2 separate regions of the Homo sapiens genome follow, and region 2 is linked to region 1. Evidence: fine-mapped expression QTL. Tissue or cell type: aorta. Region 1 holds a variant in brackets; the other region holds the start of a gene. All regions are shown on one strand. Distances are between the middles of the regions.

Evidence for each region. PIP is the estimated chance that this variant, and not a neighbour inherited with it, causes the effect.
Region 2: it holds the start of MSX1, and the variant in region 1 is fine-mapped to the expression of MSX1 in aorta (GTEx, PIP above 0.99).

The regions. Positions count from the first base shown.
Region 1 is chr4:4,977,035-4,985,136 of GRCh38, forward strand. The region is part of intron 2 of LOC101928306 (a long non-coding RNA gene); the gene reads left to right. Among named protein-coding and RNA genes, the nearest start is that of CYTL1, 38 kb to the right of the region's middle. The variant G/C (reference allele first, on the strand shown) is at 3,972.
Region 2 is chr4:4,855,819-4,863,920 of GRCh38, forward strand. It overlaps MSX1 (msh homeobox 1), which reads left to right and starts at 3,847. Exons shown (of 2, transcript NM_002448.3): 1 at 3,847-4,550; 2 at 6,883-8,102. The coding sequence starts at 4,082. The coding sequence ends at 7,325. RefSeq lists silencers at 3,669-3,728, 3,749-3,988, 3,999-4,438 and an enhancer at 6,492-7,163.

The DNA of each region.
Region 1 (8,102 bases):
TTAGCTTTGCTCTCTGGTAGGGCCTGTTCCCCTTTGTGGAGAAAAGAGCTCATATAGCAGTCCTGATACTGCTCTCTTTAGAAAGTCCTGCTTACAAAGTTGGCCGTGGAATGATGGCTGGGAACTTGGATTTGGGGATGGTTGCCACCATTTCCAGAACTGATAAGAGTGGCTCACTGTGTCTAAAGCATTTGTACAAAGAGTAGGTTCATGTTAACCACCTGCTTTACTTCCAGGAGTCTGGAAGTTTGGTGCATGTCAGGCAGAGGGGGCCCATGTATCCAGCCAGCAGTAAAAACCCTGGACAATGAGTCTCAGTGGCCTTCCCTGATAGATGTGCTGTCATAGCACATTGCTGGAAGAATCAAGTGAGTCCCATGCAACTCCACTTGGAGAGGACCCTTAGAAGCTTGCACCCAGTTTTCTCTGGACTTTGCCCTCGTGCCTTTTCCCTTTGATAATTTTGCTTTGCATCCTTAACTGTCATAAGTTATAGCCATGAGGGTGACCACATGTCAAGTCCTGTGAGTCTCCTGGTGAATCATTAAACCTGGGGTGGTCTTGGGACCCTGAACACACCCTTTCTCCTTCTCTGGTGCCTCTTTCTTCTTCTTTTTATTCAACAATATCTTGGTTATCCTCATATTTTTATTCATTTTTATGACTCTTACAATTCTCGAGGATTCAGTTGACATCTCATTGCATTTGCCAATAAATCTGGGGGTGGAAAGGGATCAATATCTATGTCTGTGTCAAATATTGTGTCTTCATTCTCAGTACCAGCCTCATCATCCTGAGCTCTTCCCTGTGCCTCTGGATCATGGAGCCCGAAAACTACATTTCCCAGACTCTGTTGTTCATGGGCCCAGTGAGAGTCCATCATGCGAGGCACTGGCATGAGGTTGGAAGGAGGAAGTGAAGGCCTATTTCTTCTCTCTGGGACTCTGTGTGTATGGCAAAGCACAGACAAGGAATTTTGACCACAACTTTGAGCATCCTTTTGAGAAGCACTCACACTGGGCTCCAGCATCTGCCCTGTGATCCCAGAACCCTCAGAATTCCTGACCGTGCCCTTCCTGGGTTTTGCTCCCTCAACTTTCCAAAGACTATGAAAACCTCCAATTCTGTATCGTGTCTCTTCATCCTTAGAGTTCCCAGAATATTTTTTCTTTCCCTGGCCAGATCTTAACTAATATTGTTAAATCAAGTTTAGACTAAAGCTGCCTCCTTATACATTTTACGTTCAGTCTAAAGTTGTATCTGTACATAATAAACTGCAACTGAATTGGATGTGTAAACAAACTAACCTACTCTTGCGCCAGTCACTGTGTTTGGGCGAATTAAAGACAGCCAAATGTTCAAACTTTTCAAATAAGGCAAATGCCGAGCTATAATCCATCTAGCTCTTTCTGTGCCTCAATTCTATTGTCTGTAGGTCACTTTCCTTTTTCTGACCATAAATGTTCTTCCACCACATGGCTGTGCTGGAGTCTCTGAGCCTACTCTGGTTCAGAAGTTTGCCTGATTTGCAAATCATTCTTTGTTCAACTAAACTCTTTTAATTTTAACTTGTCTATGGTTTTGCTTTTAACAATATAACACCAGCTGGGCACAGTGGCTCATGCATGTAATCCCAGCACTTTGAGAAGCTGAGGTGGGTGGATCACTTGAGGTCAGGAGTTCGAGACCAGCCTGGCCAACATGACGAAACCCCGTCTGTAGTAAAAATACAAAAATTAGTTGGGCATGGTGGCACCCACTTGGAATTCCAGCTACCTGGGAGGCTGAGGCAGGAGAATTGCTTAAACTCAGGAGGTGGAGGTTGCAGTGACCAAGATCCCAACATTGCACCCCAGCCTGGGTGACAAGAGTGAGACTCCATCTCAAAAACAAAAACAAAAACAAAAAACAATATAATACCACTCTGGTTCTTCCTTGCTCCATCACTTCATTTATTTAGGTCTTTTTTATATCCTTGATAGTTTTATAAATTTCTCTGTAAAGTTCCCCAGCAGAATTGAGCTCCCATTGTCCACAGCAGCATTCGTGGTAACTGTCATAACAGTCTGAATGTTTGTATCTTTGCAAATTCCTGTGTAGAAAGCTAATCACCAATATTATAGTATTAGAGGGCAGGGTCTCTGGGAGATGATTAGGTCATGGGGGTGGAGACCTCATGACTGGGACAAATGAGGCCCACAGAGCTCCCTTGCCCCTTCCACAATGTGAAGATGCAGCAAGAAGGCCTCCTCTAGAAACCATAAGAAGGCCTCCTCTAGAAACCATAAGAAGGCCTCATCTAGAAACCATAAGAAGGCCTCATCTAGAAACCATAAGAAGGCCTCATCTGGAAACTATAAAGCAGGCTTCTCGAGACACCAAATCTGCAGTGCTTTGGTCTTGGACTTGCCAGCCTCCAGAACTGTAAGAGATAAATATCTGTTGTTTATAAGCCACCCAGTTTATAGTATTTTGTTATAGCTGCGTGAATGGACTAAGACAATAGCAAACCCTCACACTGGTTTCTTTTCCTGCTTTCCTGTCTCATTTGCCTTGTTCCCTTACTCCTGCTTCCTGGGATCATCTTCCTTAACAAGCCACGTGTTTAAGTCCATTCTCACACTGCTATAAAGAAATACCTGAGACAGCCATTTATAAGGAAAAAAGTTTATTTGGCTCAGAGTTCCACGGGCTGTACAGGAAGCACGACTCTGGCATCTGCTCAGCTTCTGGGGAGGTCTCAGAAAGCTTACAATCATGGCGGAAGGCAAACGGGGAGTGAAGCATCTCACATGGCAGGAGCAGGAGCAAGAGAGAGAGGGAGAAGGTGCTACACACTTTTAAACAACCAGATCTTGTGATGACTCACTCACTATCATAAGAACAGCACCAAGGGGACGGCGCTAAGCCATTCATGAAGGATCCACCCCCATGATCCAGTCACCTCCCACTGGGCCCCACTTCCAACTTTGGGGATTAGAATTTGACATGAAATTTTGGTGGGGACACAGATCGAAAACGTATCACTACTTATACCTAAATCCCTGTCTTAGCTTGAAAGAAACCCACACTAAAATATGCATTTACTCAGAAGCCATAACAGCAATAGCTACTATTGCTGGATATTTACCATATGCTGGGCATGTGGTTATGCTGAACAAACACTATCTCCTTTAATTCTCCCAGAATTCCCATGGTGCACTTACTTTATGAACAAGGAAACGAAACACAGAGTTGAAATAACTTGCTTGAAGTCAGAAAGCAAGGACCTGGCAGAGTCTGGGTTCTAACCCGGGACTCTCCAACTCCACATTTTTGAACTTGCCCCACCCCTATTCTGATGTCAAAGTCCAGATCCTTCCATGAGTGTGTTGTGTGACTTTGGTTCCATCATTTTAAATCTCTGAACTCACCTGGGTCTGAATTAGATGATCTCAAAATCTCTCTCTAGCATTAGCAGATGATAGCCCCATGACTCCAGGATGCAGATCACCTCCCGAGTGTCCCTTCCTCAGTGGTTTGCATGGAACTAAGTACATAGTTCCACCTCCAGTTCTACAGCCCTTGCAGATCCCCTACACCATGGCTGTCTCACTGATAAAGGCCAGAGCCCAAGTCTGGAAATCCACAATCCACGCAGAAAGATGGAAGGAGCCTGGGAAGAGGGAATGAGCTCCCTCCGTGAGGCCCAGGGTCAAGAGGAGCCCCTTACTGTTCCAGCCCCCACAAGGGATGGCTTTATGCTTCCTGCAGAGGGTAGCCTTGCAATGTGCATAAATTAAGCACGGTTCAGTCTTTATTGCCACGCAAAGCCTTGGGAGGACTGTTTTATATGTCTCTGTTCTCATGGCGTTAGCATCATATAGGCTGAAATTAATTCCACCAGACGGGCTGCTCACAAGCAGAGCCAAGAATTTCCTGGGAAGGAGTTAGGTCTGACTTTGGCAGCCGCTGTGTGCAGTGATAAAGGC[G/C]TCTCAGACGGTCTCACACAGCTGGGGCATCCAAGGGTATTATATTCTTTGGCCCTCGAGGGCTATTTCTCCCTCTTCCAGAAAACTGGGTGTGGAGTATGGGCTTGGAGTCAAGGCTGATCACAGATGGGAAATAGACCCTGGCATTCTCCCTCATCCCTGGATCATTTGATCGATGAGGCTAGGGAATCCCAAACAGGCCAGCCATCGTCCCTGTCTCAGAGCGCCGGAGCCATTGGGCCTGACTTCTGGGCTGGCTCACCTGCCCTGAAACCAGACTATTACCCACAGGAGATGGTTGCCTGAGCCCTGTGGCCTTGCTTCTGCCTTGAGTTCTGTTGGTCCTTTGTTTTGCAAAGAACTTCTAATATGGTGTCCAATTTGAGGTACCCCAGAGGCCGGGAAAGTAGGGGAGGTGATATTATTAGGCATGCTAATAATCATTATGATAATCACCACTATTTACCAAGTATTTCCCTCTGTACCAGCCCCCTTGGAAGCACTTTACACACATGAACACATTGCTTTGCAGAGAGGCCCATAGAGGAGAATGAAATGACCGAGGGCAGAGACACTCCCAGGGAATCTGCTCTGTGCCAGCCTCCTCCCCAGAAATTTCACAATCCAGAACTGTTGCAAAGCTTGCAGCTTGCCAAACATATTGTGTTAATCTCCATCCCTTTGCTTATGCTCTTCCATTTATGTGTCTAGCATTCCCTGGAAAATGCCTATTCATCCCTCAAAACCCAGCTCAGGATGCGTTTCCTTCTGCAAGCCGTGTTGTATCTCCCCAGGCTGATTGCATCTCCATTCAACCAGCACGTATTGGGAAGATTTCAAAAGGAATAAAGAACTCTTGTCTGCACGGGAGCTTAGTTTAGTGGCTGCTGAGTCCAGTCCCTCTTCAGAGCCACTCCCCTCCCTGACTGTCCCAGCCATCTTTCTCACCCTCCAGATTCCTGTTGGGTTTGGCCAAGGGGCGACATCAGCAGGAGATCTGAGGGCGGGAGAAGAGTGGGAATGGGTGTTGGTTCCCCTAACTCCCTCTCTGTGTGGTGTATGCACGTGTCTTTTGTGTTCTGTATTCAGATTCTTTGACGTCTGAGGCCTTGCTAATCCTGGAGGGACTGCCCCTCCCAGGGCTGGCCAATCTAGAAATGGTCAACAATTCGCTCAAGAGTGTGCTTTTCAAACGCCAACCAACTGATCCAGAGCCCACACCCTCCACCTCCTCCCCTATGGGGCTGTCACACTCCACCTGCCCTGATCATCCCAGGGCTGGAAACCAGACAATGCAGGGCAGCAACTCTGAGCCCCAGATCAGCTAAAATTATTCAAACCAGCAATCCTAAGCCTGCCTGCCCTGCCTCTTTCATTCCTTCCAATCAAAACCTCAATGGAGGTTCTTGCCTACTGTGTCTCCCCTCCCTGTCTCCTGACCCACCTACGTGTTTCCCCAGTGGCTCTTCATAGCATGGTGGGCCCTTTCTTATTGGGAACTCTAAGGGACAAATGATCTTTTCAGTGTCAGTCCTCTCCCAATCTGCTGGCCTTATCATACCGAAATAATATTCATATGGCCAGGCGTGGTGGCTCAGGCCTGTAATCCCAGCACTTTGGGAGGCTAAGGTGGACGGATCACCTGAGGTCGGGAGTTTGAGACCAGCCTGACCAACATGGAGAAACCCCATCTCTATTAAAAATACAAAATTAGCTGGGCGTGGTGGCACATGCCTGTAATCCCAACTACCTGGGAGGCTGAGGCAGGAGAATCGCTTGAACTCGGGAGGCGGAGGTTGCGGTGAGCCAAGATCACATCTTTGCCCTCCAGCCTGGGCAACAAGAGCAAAACTCCGTCTAATAATAATAATAATAATAATAATACATACATACATACATACATGAACACATGAGGTTGCTTAGGACGGGCTGCTTCTGTCTGCTAGAGCCCCACTGCTCTGGCCCGTTGCTCCCATCTTGTGTTTCTGTCTCCGTTCCAGAGACCACCCCCTCACTCCCCATCGGGCCTAGGAGCAGTGACACTACCCCCTGCCCTTAGCCCCTGGGTTCTACACTGTCTCTTGCTGGTTACCCAAACCTCGTTCACAACTTGGTGAGTAGTCTTTGTATTAAAGTCTTTGTATTAAAGTATTTGTATTAAACAGTTTGAGAGTCTCTGTTTCTTGGTGGGGATGGAGCCATGAGCAGACCAGTTGAACACCCTCCTCTCCATCTATCCAACCGCCTTCACTTGCTTGTCTCGAAATCTGCCTCTGGCAGGACTCTTGAGTCCAGCCTCTGCTTCCCACATCTTGGTGTCCCTGCACAGCAAAGCAATCCCCAACCTGCAGGGAGCTGAGACAAGCAGCAGGATGGAAGGACAGCATTTGGTGGTTGGTCCAATGGAGGGATTGACGGAGGAGTCACAGAGGATGCCCAGGTCTCCAGTGTCACCAGTGGTGGGGCCAGACAGAGAATAGGCTTGTGGGGGAAAGAGATGAATTCATTCATGCTGTACAGAGCTGGAGGGGCCTGTGGCATCCACATGGCCAGTGAACCACGTAAGAGGGGGTCATGGTGTGGAGAGACCCCCCAGGAACCATGCAGAGAGGAATGGGAGTGGGTCCAGGGGAGCCGGGCTGGCATGTGGAAGCAGCAAGAAGCCACTGCTGGGGTGAAAAGCAGAGAAAGGAGAGGAGAGGGCAGAGCCCAAGGACCAGGCAAGGCAGGCTCTCATGGGGAAGTCCCAGGGACGTGGGCTGAGAGGGACCTTTGCATTTGCCCACTGAAACATCATGCGGGTCTGTGAGTTTTGCGGCAAGGAGGAGGGGGCAAAGGTGTGTTTGAGCAGGCGAGGATGACCATGGAAGGTGCGTGAGTCCTGACATGGGTGTGCTCAGAGGATAGCCTCGGATACGCGCAGGTGCGTGAGAAACTGTTGAAGGAAAGCGAACACGGGCAGGAGGGGTGTTGGGGGCTAAACTGTGTCCCCCTCACCCACATTCACATGTGGAAGCCCTGAAACCCCATACTTCAGAGTGTGATTGTCATTGGAGATAGGGCCTTTAGGGAGGTGATTAAGGTGAAATGAGACCATCAGAGTGGGGCCCCAATCTAGTACAGTTGGTGTCCTCATAAGGAGGGGAAGAGACACCAGAGCCCTCTCCCCTCGAGCATCCACACAGGAAAGACTGTGTGAGGACACAGCAAGAAGGTGGCTGTCTACAAGCCAGGTAGAGAGGCCTTACCAGGAACCAACCCTGTTGCACCTTTATCCTGGACTTCCAGCCTGCCGAACTGTGAGAAAAGAAACTCCTGTTCTTTAAGCTGCCTGGTCTGTAGTGTTCTGTTAGAGCAGCCTGAGCTGACTAATACAACAGGTATGGCCACCTGGCCCAGGTGGGGCAGGTGGGGGAAGGACAGGAAATGGAGACAGCTGAAGGACGGGCAAAGTTGAGTGGCTGAAAGTGTAGGGAACAGCATTTCATGCAGAGGGAATTGCATGTCCAAAGCCTGGCATGCAGCAAGCATGGCTCATTGGAATAATCAAAAAACAGGTCATTTTTACAGTAGGATTTGCCTGTGTGTGTGTGTGTGTGTGTGTGTGTGTGTGTGTCTGTGTCTGTGCTTAGCTTTTCCTTATGTTTTCTTTCTTATGGAGCCTCATATGCAGAGGGTTGTGGTGATCATATTCTTATTTCCTGACCTCATCCCCATCTAGTAGGAGAAAGCCTTTATTTTCTCTGATTTCTTCCCTCTTAGCCCCATATCCCAGCTCCGTTCGTCCCATAGTCAACCGTTCTACAGTTTTGACGTGTACTTTTCAATTATAAAATATGTGCTGCTATTTGTATGGATATATATATTTTTGTAGGACGTGTTGGGTCCTATATCTCAATTTCTCCCTTTCTTCTTTCTTTCCTCCTGTCCTTTCTTCCTTCTCCTTCCTTCCTTCTTTCTTTCTTCCTTCTCAGCCTTGTGTGAGGTCTTAAGATCCATCATGTTGCTGTGAAGTGGTGGTGAAATCTGTCACTTATACGCCAGGGCATTGCATCCCCTCCATCTTCCCTGTGATGGACACACAGGGTCTTTTCCTCTTCTTCTCCTAGGGTGGAGATTTGCAGAGTGTCT
Region 2 (8,102 bases), 120 kb before region 1:
GCGGGATTCCTGGGCCGAGGTCACAAAATGCAGTGGAAAGAGAGGGAGGGAGCATAAACAAAAACCCGACGGAGGCGACAACAAATGCCGAAGTGAGAAGTCAGCCTCCAGGCTCTTCCAACCGGTGCAGCAATACCCAGATAGGGATAACCGTCTTTAGGACGGGGTCCTTCTAAAAATTAATCTTTGCACGGGAGTGGTGTATACTTAGCAACACCACCATCCCTGCCTCCATCCCCCCAACCCCCGCAAAATTTTGGGGGAAAAAAAAAACCAGCTAAACCCACCACCAGTTTAGTTGCCCAGAAAGTAGACGAAGGATAATCCATCTTCAGGATCCGAAATGCAGAGGCCCTCTACTTGGGGGCGGGGAGTGCTTTAGGATGCCTGAAAATGAGGGGAGATGGAGCGAGAGGGGAGGGGAGAGAAGTCTAGAGGATGGAAGCGGAGCGCCAGTCCCCGAGCTTTATCTGCTGGGGCCAGCCCTGCCCTTGCCAGGCATGAATTACTGCCCGGCTTTCTCGGCTGCAGCGGCAGCGCAGAGAAATGCCGGGGGTACAAACGCCTCGAGGTTAGAGCTGGCGGCGAGATAACAGGCTCAGCCCCAGGGCCTGCCTGCTCGCTGAACCCCTGGGCCGGGAAATCGGTAAAGTCCTAGACAAAAAATAACTCAGAGAAGTCTCCCTCTCACTGCCCCTGTAACTCGTGGCTTTCCTCCCGCGGGAACAAACAACGCCCTGGGAAACAGGCAGACATTTTATTTCTTTTATCTGACTCCTTTCTCTTGAGACTGCCGGCACCTTTCTTTCTCTCGCAATCCAGGGGCAGAGCAATGGGAAAGCCCCGCGCTTTTCTGACACGGAATTGAGTCTGAACCCCCTTCTCTGCCGATGCACTCTTCTCGCCTAGCAACGTTTACACGCGGTTAACCTGCCGCGCGGGGCGACAGCAGACACGAACCCAGGCCGAACCTATAAAGAAGACACCGTGGCGTTCAGACCCGGCTCGGGAAGCCGAGGGGCTGGCTGCGGGGCCGGTGCTGCGGGGCCAGGCGATTTGCTCCCCGGAGGCAGGGGCGCGACTTCAAGGGCCCGTGCGCCGGGTGCAGCCTTTGATCCGGCCGCCGCTGGCGCCTTAAAACAACATCCTAGTCTGCCTATTAGGCGCGCTGAGGAATCGTGACACATTGTTTATCCCCGCAATTAGCGATGCGGCCCTTTTCAGGCCGCCCGCCCCCGGGCCCCCCGCCCCCCCCCCCCCCCCCGCGGCGGAGTCCAGGCCTTGCTGCGCTCCTCAACTGCGACCGCCGCAAGTTCCACACTAGCCCCCGCTGCACCATGCGGCTTCGCTCTCTGAGTTCAAGCCCCCGCTCAGCCCTAAAGCAGGGGTTCTTAACTGGAGGACTCCACTTGGGACCAGAGCCCCCGAAGTTGTCTGCCCCGTTGCTTGTAATGTGTTTTTGTAGGTGTGCATTTTTCTAGGGAAGAAGTTCTTGGCTGTATCAGATTCTTAAAGAGACCTGGGAGCAAAACATTTGCAGAAGGAGGGCGAGGGCGGAACTAAGCAAAGACTCGAAAAGGCACACTGCTCGCTTTTTAAATGGCCCCAAAAGCAGATAGGCCTCTGTTTCCTCTCCCCCTTTAACCTGGCCACAAAGGGAGATTCTGGCTGGGTGCGGAGGGGGTTGTTCTGACGAGAGTTTGATTAGAACGGGAGCAATAGAAGTTCGCCGTCCTGGAATCGCTTGAACCTGGGAGGCGGAGGTTGGAGTGAACTGAGATCGCGCCATTGCACTCCAGCCTGGGCGACAAGAGCAAAACTCCGTCTCAAAGAAGAGGAAGAGGAAGAAGAAGGAGGAGGAGGAGGAGGAGATGAGGAGGAGAGGAGGAAGAGGAGGATGAGGAGGAGGAGAAAAGAGGAAGAAAAAGAGGAAGAGGAAGAAGAAGAAGAAGAGGAAGAAGAGGAAGATGCTGTTGTTCGCTGTCCTGGCTGGGCTACCAGCAAGGTATTTGCCCTACAGCCTTGCTCAGCCTCAGCGAGCTGAGCTTCAAAATTGGGTCTTAAGGTCTTCTATCCTTGTACCCTCTCGGGCAAACCTCCGGAGGCCCCGGTGCACCGCGCGTCCAGCCGGCCCAACTCGAGCTAGAAGCCCCAACCACTGCCCAGTGCCTGAGTTGCAGTCTTGGGTCCTTTAGAAACCTGGAGATGTGCGTAAAATTCAGATGCCGGTATTCCCGAACTTCCCCAGGCCTCAGCATATCTCGGCGGCCTGTGGACAGATGGGAGGCTACCAATCGCTCCGGCGTCCGCAGCCCGACCCCTGCCGCCAGACCCCGGACGTCTTCCGGATAATAAAGTTCCCGCTCTAATTCATTTTCCCTAATCTGGACGCCCCTAATCTACAGCTTTTATTGCGCCCAGTTAAAAGTCGAGGGAATTCGCTGTCCCTCCGCGCTCGGATAATTACCCCTAAATGGCCACGGCAGCCCCTTGTGTTTCCTGGAGATTAGAACCCCGCAGTCATCAATGGCAGGGCCGAGTGAGCCGCCAATCACCTCCGCTCACTCCCTGAGAGCCGCTGGCCTGGGCCGCAGGAGGAGAGGCCATAAAGCGACAGGCGCAGAAAATGGCCAAGCCCCGACCCCGCTTCAGGCAGATCTTGCATCTCCCCTGACCCCAACTCATTTTTTCTGTCTTTATTATTATTATTATTATTAACAGCAAACATTAAATCACGTTTTCTCCGAAATTGGCAAAAGAAGAGTTCTCAAGTCCCACACTAGAGTCCACCTCCAGGAACTTTCCTCTTTTCCCAGCCCCCTCCCCCAAATGTGCCTCTCCCCTCCAGGATCAGCGGCCCAGAGATAGGGACATGTCATTGTTTCCGAGGACGCGTTGTTTGAGGTCACCTTAAGGCCAGATCGGTGTTTCATTGACGATTCTGTTGGTTTTATTTCAGTAAGTTCTATATCAAAAGGATCTGGCAGCTCCTTTCCCCGCCCGGGCGCTATAGGTGTTGTGACCCTTGGGACAGAAGTTCAGAGCGAGGGTGGGGGGGGGGGAATACACATCGTGTATGAAAACCGACTGCAGATTCTAGATAATCTTACGTATTCTCACATCCTTGGCACTACAGGAAGCTAGCTTCTTCCCGCAAGGTTTACTCCAGCTCTAAGTTAGAGACAAAGGCCCACTTTTACCTCGAGGTAAAGTTTACAAGATTTCAGAACAGGAAGAAAATGAAGGTTTGGTTTTGTTTCGTTTCTTGAAAAGAAGTTAATAGTATGTCTTTCTCCTAGGATAAATAGCCATGCGTATTTTAAAAACTATATATAAAAGGAATGTGTAAGAAATAACCTCAACTCAAATTATTGTGGTAGAAGAAGAGGGGGGGTCAGACAGTGGAGGGGGGCACAGGGAAACCCAGCCACAGACTAAAGAGAAAGGTAAAAGAAGCAGTAGAGGAGAGAAACAAGGACGGGGAAAAAAAGAGGAGCGGAAAAGAGGGCTGAGGAGGGGAGGGGAGGGGAGGAGAGGAGGGCAGAAGAGAAGGAACGAGAACAAGGGAAAATCCCCCGGGAACACAGAAAGATAGAGACCCAGGGGACTCCCGCAGAGAGGGCCTCTTGGGCTTCAGCGCAGAGGAAAGTTTCCCGGGCACCCCCTCTCCTCCCCTGCCCTCCGCCGCCTGGGCCCTGCCCTGCGTGCCCCCAGGCCCAGCGCGCCTCCGGGCGAGTCCCCAGGAGCGCGGCCCAATGGATCGCTCCGGGCCCGCCCCCTCGCGCGCTGATTGGCCGCCGCCCCGCTGGCCTCGCCTTATTAGCAAGTTCTCTGGGGAGCCGCGGTAGGGCCCGGAGCCGGCGAGTGCTCCCGGGAACTCTGCCTGCGCGGCGGCAGCGACCGGAGGCCAGGCCCAGCACGCCGGAGCTGGCCTGCTGGGGAGGGGCGGGAGGCGCGCGCGGGAGGGTCCGCCCGGCCAGGGCCCCGGGCGCTCGCAGAGGCCGGCCGCGCTCCCAGCCCGCCCGGAGCCCATGCCCGGCGGCTGGCCAGTGCTGCGGCAGAAGGGGGGGCCCGGCTCTGCATGGCCCCGGCTGCTGACATGACTTCTTTGCCACTCGGTGTCAAAGTGGAGGACTCCGCCTTCGGCAAGCCGGCGGGGGGAGGCGCGGGCCAGGCCCCCAGCGCCGCCGCGGCCACGGCAGCCGCCATGGGCGCGGACGAGGAGGGGGCCAAGCCCAAAGTGTCCCCTTCGCTCCTGCCCTTCAGCGTGGAGGCGCTCATGGCCGACCACAGGAAGCCGGGGGCCAAGGAGAGCGCCCTGGCGCCCTCCGAGGGCGTGCAGGCGGCGGGTGGCTCGGCGCAGCCACTGGGCGTCCCGCCGGGGTCGCTGGGAGCCCCGGACGCGCCCTCTTCGCCGCGGCCGCTCGGCCATTTCTCGGTGGGGGGACTCCTCAAGCTGCCAGAAGATGCGCTCGTCAAAGCCGAGAGCCCCGAGAAGCCCGAGAGGACCCCGTGGATGCAGAGCCCCCGCTTCTCCCCGCCGCCGGCCAGTGAGTAGCCAGAACCCAGGCGCAGAGGGAGGGGGCCGGGTGGGGGCCGGGTGGGGTGTGGGACCCGAGGGCTCCTGGTGGCCTCCGGCGCCTGCGTACCTGCAGCCGGTGCTAGGGAGCCGTGGGCTGCAAGGCCGGGTCTTGCGCCTCCCTCCACTCCCACCCAGGAAGAAGGTTCCAGACCTCCTCGCCTTGGCCCAGAGACGCTGCGGGTGGGAGTTAACGGATAGGACACCGATGTCTGGGCACCCTGTCCTCCTGCCCCCACCAAACGACCTCAGGGGTCCATGATCCCTCATCTGATCCCAAACTCTGTTTCATCGGCTTCACCCCAGCGGATGAATGTGTGTGGTGCGGTATCTTCCCTGCACCCGGAGTTTCACTTTCTCGCAGTAGGAGCTGGTGTCCCCCAGCCCCTCTTCCCTTTCAAGTACCTCTTTGCCTAGAGGTTCCGAAGCTCCTACAGAATTCTACCTCCCCATGCCCTTTGAGTTTGAGGCAGATAGTTGGTGCTTTGGGCGGATGGATGATTCAGGGGTGGGGACATTCAGGTTCCAGTGGAGGGGGCGGGGCACCAAGTCAATTAGGGGAAGGCGCCCCCGCTAATCCTATGGGAAGCTCCCAAACGTCTAGGACTGAGCCATTAAAGTGGACTCCAGGTGCCCAAGGCGGTTCGCTCCAAGGCCTCACGGCCCCCTGGCTGCTCTACTCAGAGAACACGCTCGGAGATATTTCAGGAGCACGGGAAATTCCCAAGTTTTCCTCGTTTCCTCCGATTATTTTGCTCGGCATAATAGCAGCCAGATTTCAATGGCGTGATGCTGAGGAATGATTTTTATCTGGGGATTAAACGTCTTTGAAAGGCCAGTCCCTCCCTAAGCCTAATGGCCGGAGAAGGTGGCCCCGCTCTGGGTTGTCGCCGCTGAAGGGAGTGACGTTTCTCTCGGCGCCCGCCCCTCGGGCGGCCCGGCGGAAAGCTAGTTGGGGGCCAAGCGCTTCCCGGACTCCCGGTGGCCTCCAGCAGGGAAGAAGCGGGGTGTTAACACGAGATTTCGTTTGACTCACATCCTGGTGGTCTGAAAGTCCAAAGGATCGTTGTGTTTTCTTTGTTTTGTTTTGTTTTTTCTGTTTGTTTGTGGTTGTTTTTTAGAGAGGTGTGAAAAAATGCATACTTAGGCAAAACCCGCGTGGTGAAACATCTTCGATTTGAATTCACTTTCTGCCGGGAAAGCTGCTGCATAGGCAAAGTGTCCTTTCCAACGCTTAGGGCCTTGGGCCCCAAGACCCCGAAGTCAAAGCGATCCCGGCTGTGTTGGGATAATTTGTTCCACATTTTATCCGGGGGCAGTCCCCAGCAGACCCCATCCCCGACCTGCACTAGTCCTGCGCTCTGATGCTTCTTCACTGTCCACCCTTGAGGTTTATTTTGAAGCCAAAAGAAAAAGACAGCTGGGCATGTTGATGTCTGCTGACTATGCCACAGGTTGAGGGGAGAGGCGATCTCAACACTCCCCCCGCAACAACATCAACACACACACACACACACACACACAAACGTTTGAGTGGGGCCAGAGGGCCCTGGCGCCAGGGGTGAACGCGATCCAACAGAGGACTGAGACAATCTAAAGAAAAAGCCCATTAGAATAAAGCAGCCCCTCGTTCTCCGCTCCAGATGACACTTTCTGTTTCTAAGAGGGCTGGCCACAGTGCACCCTCCATGATGGTCTGCGCTGCTCCATCTCTGGTCTGCGGGAACTACTCCTAGAATCCCGTAGGAGCGAAGTGTTCCGGGGAAAGTGTAGAATTTGATTTGGATTCTATGCCACAAAACTGCCTAGCCCCACACTGAAGCACTCCGTGGGCACTGATAAATGTTTGGCCAACGCGTAAAACTAAATGTGCCCTTGGGCTGGGCGCAGGGCCTCTTTCTGCATGTTCGTCAACTGTATTAACATCCACCTTTCCTCTGGATGGCCCTGGGAGGAGGCCCGCCATGAAGGCCTTCCTAAGCCGCCGGGCAGCACAAAGGTGATTTCACATCTTCCCAGCTGTTTAGGCCTAAGATGTGGACATCGAGCCTTCAACGTGGGTATTTTTCTCCTGGAATCTTAGTTTCTTCATTTGCAAAAAGTAGACAGGAACTTCTCCCCTGCGGGGTTGCAATGGGAATTGGAGAAAATATATTTCAAGTGCCTTGCGCGATGCCCGGCACCGAGGCACTTGGCGGCACTCAATATCTGGTATTGTTTGGCTATTATTACTACTTCTTGGGCTGATCATGCTCCAATGCTTCTCTCTTAACCCCTTGCTTTTTTTTTCTTTCGGCCCTCAGGGCGGCTGAGCCCCCCAGCCTGCACCCTCCGCAAACACAAGACGAACCGTAAGCCGCGGACGCCCTTCACCACCGCGCAGCTGCTGGCGCTGGAGCGCAAGTTCCGCCAGAAGCAGTACCTGTCCATCGCCGAGCGCGCGGAGTTCTCCAGCTCGCTCAGCCTCACTGAGACGCAGGTGAAGATATGGTTCCAGAACCGCCGCGCCAAGGCAAAGAGACTACAAGAGGCAGAGCTGGAGAAGCTGAAGATGGCCGCCAAGCCCATGCTGCCACCGGCTGCCTTCGGCCTCTCCTTCCCTCTCGGCGGCCCCGCAGCTGTAGCGGCCGCGGCGGGTGCCTCGCTCTACGGTGCCTCTGGCCCCTTCCAGCGCGCCGCGCTGCCTGTGGCGCCCGTGGGACTCTACACGGCCCATGTGGGCTACAGCATGTACCACCTGACATAGAGGGTCCCAGGTCGCCCACCTGTGGGCCAGCCGATTCCTCCAGCCCTGGTGCTGTACCCCCGACGTGCTCCCCTGCTCGGCACCGCCAGCCGCCTTCCCTTTAACCCTCACACTGCTCCAGTTTCACCTCTTTGCTCCCTGAGTTCACTCTCCGAAGTCTGATCCCTGCCAAAAAGTGGCTGGAAGAGTCCCTTAGTACTCTTCTAGCATTTAGATCTACACTCTCGAGTTAAAGATGGGGAAACTGAGGGCAGAGAGGTTAACAGATTTATCTAAGGTCCCCAGCAGAATTGACAGTTGAACAGAGCTAGAGGCCATGTCTCCTGCATAGCTTTTCCCTGTCCTGACACCAGGCAAGAAAAGCGCAGAGAAATCGGTGTCTGACGATTTTGGAAATGAGAACAATCTCAAAAAAAAAAAAAAAAAAAAAAAAAAAAAAAAAAAAGAAAAGAGAAAAAAAAGACTAGCCAGCCAGGAAGATGAATCCTAGCTTCTTCCATTGGAAAATTTAAGACAAGTTCAACAACAAAACATTTGCTCTGGGGGGCAGGGAAAACACAGATGTGTTGCAAAGGTAGGTTGAAGGGACCTCTCTCTTACCAGTACCAGAAACACAATTGTAAAATTAAAAAAAAAAAAAAACTCTTTCTATTTAACAGTACATTTGTGTGGCTCTCAAACATCCCTTTGGAAGGGATTGTGTGTACTATGTAATATACTGTATATTTGAAATTTTATTATCATTTATATTATAGCTATATTTGTTAAATAAATTAA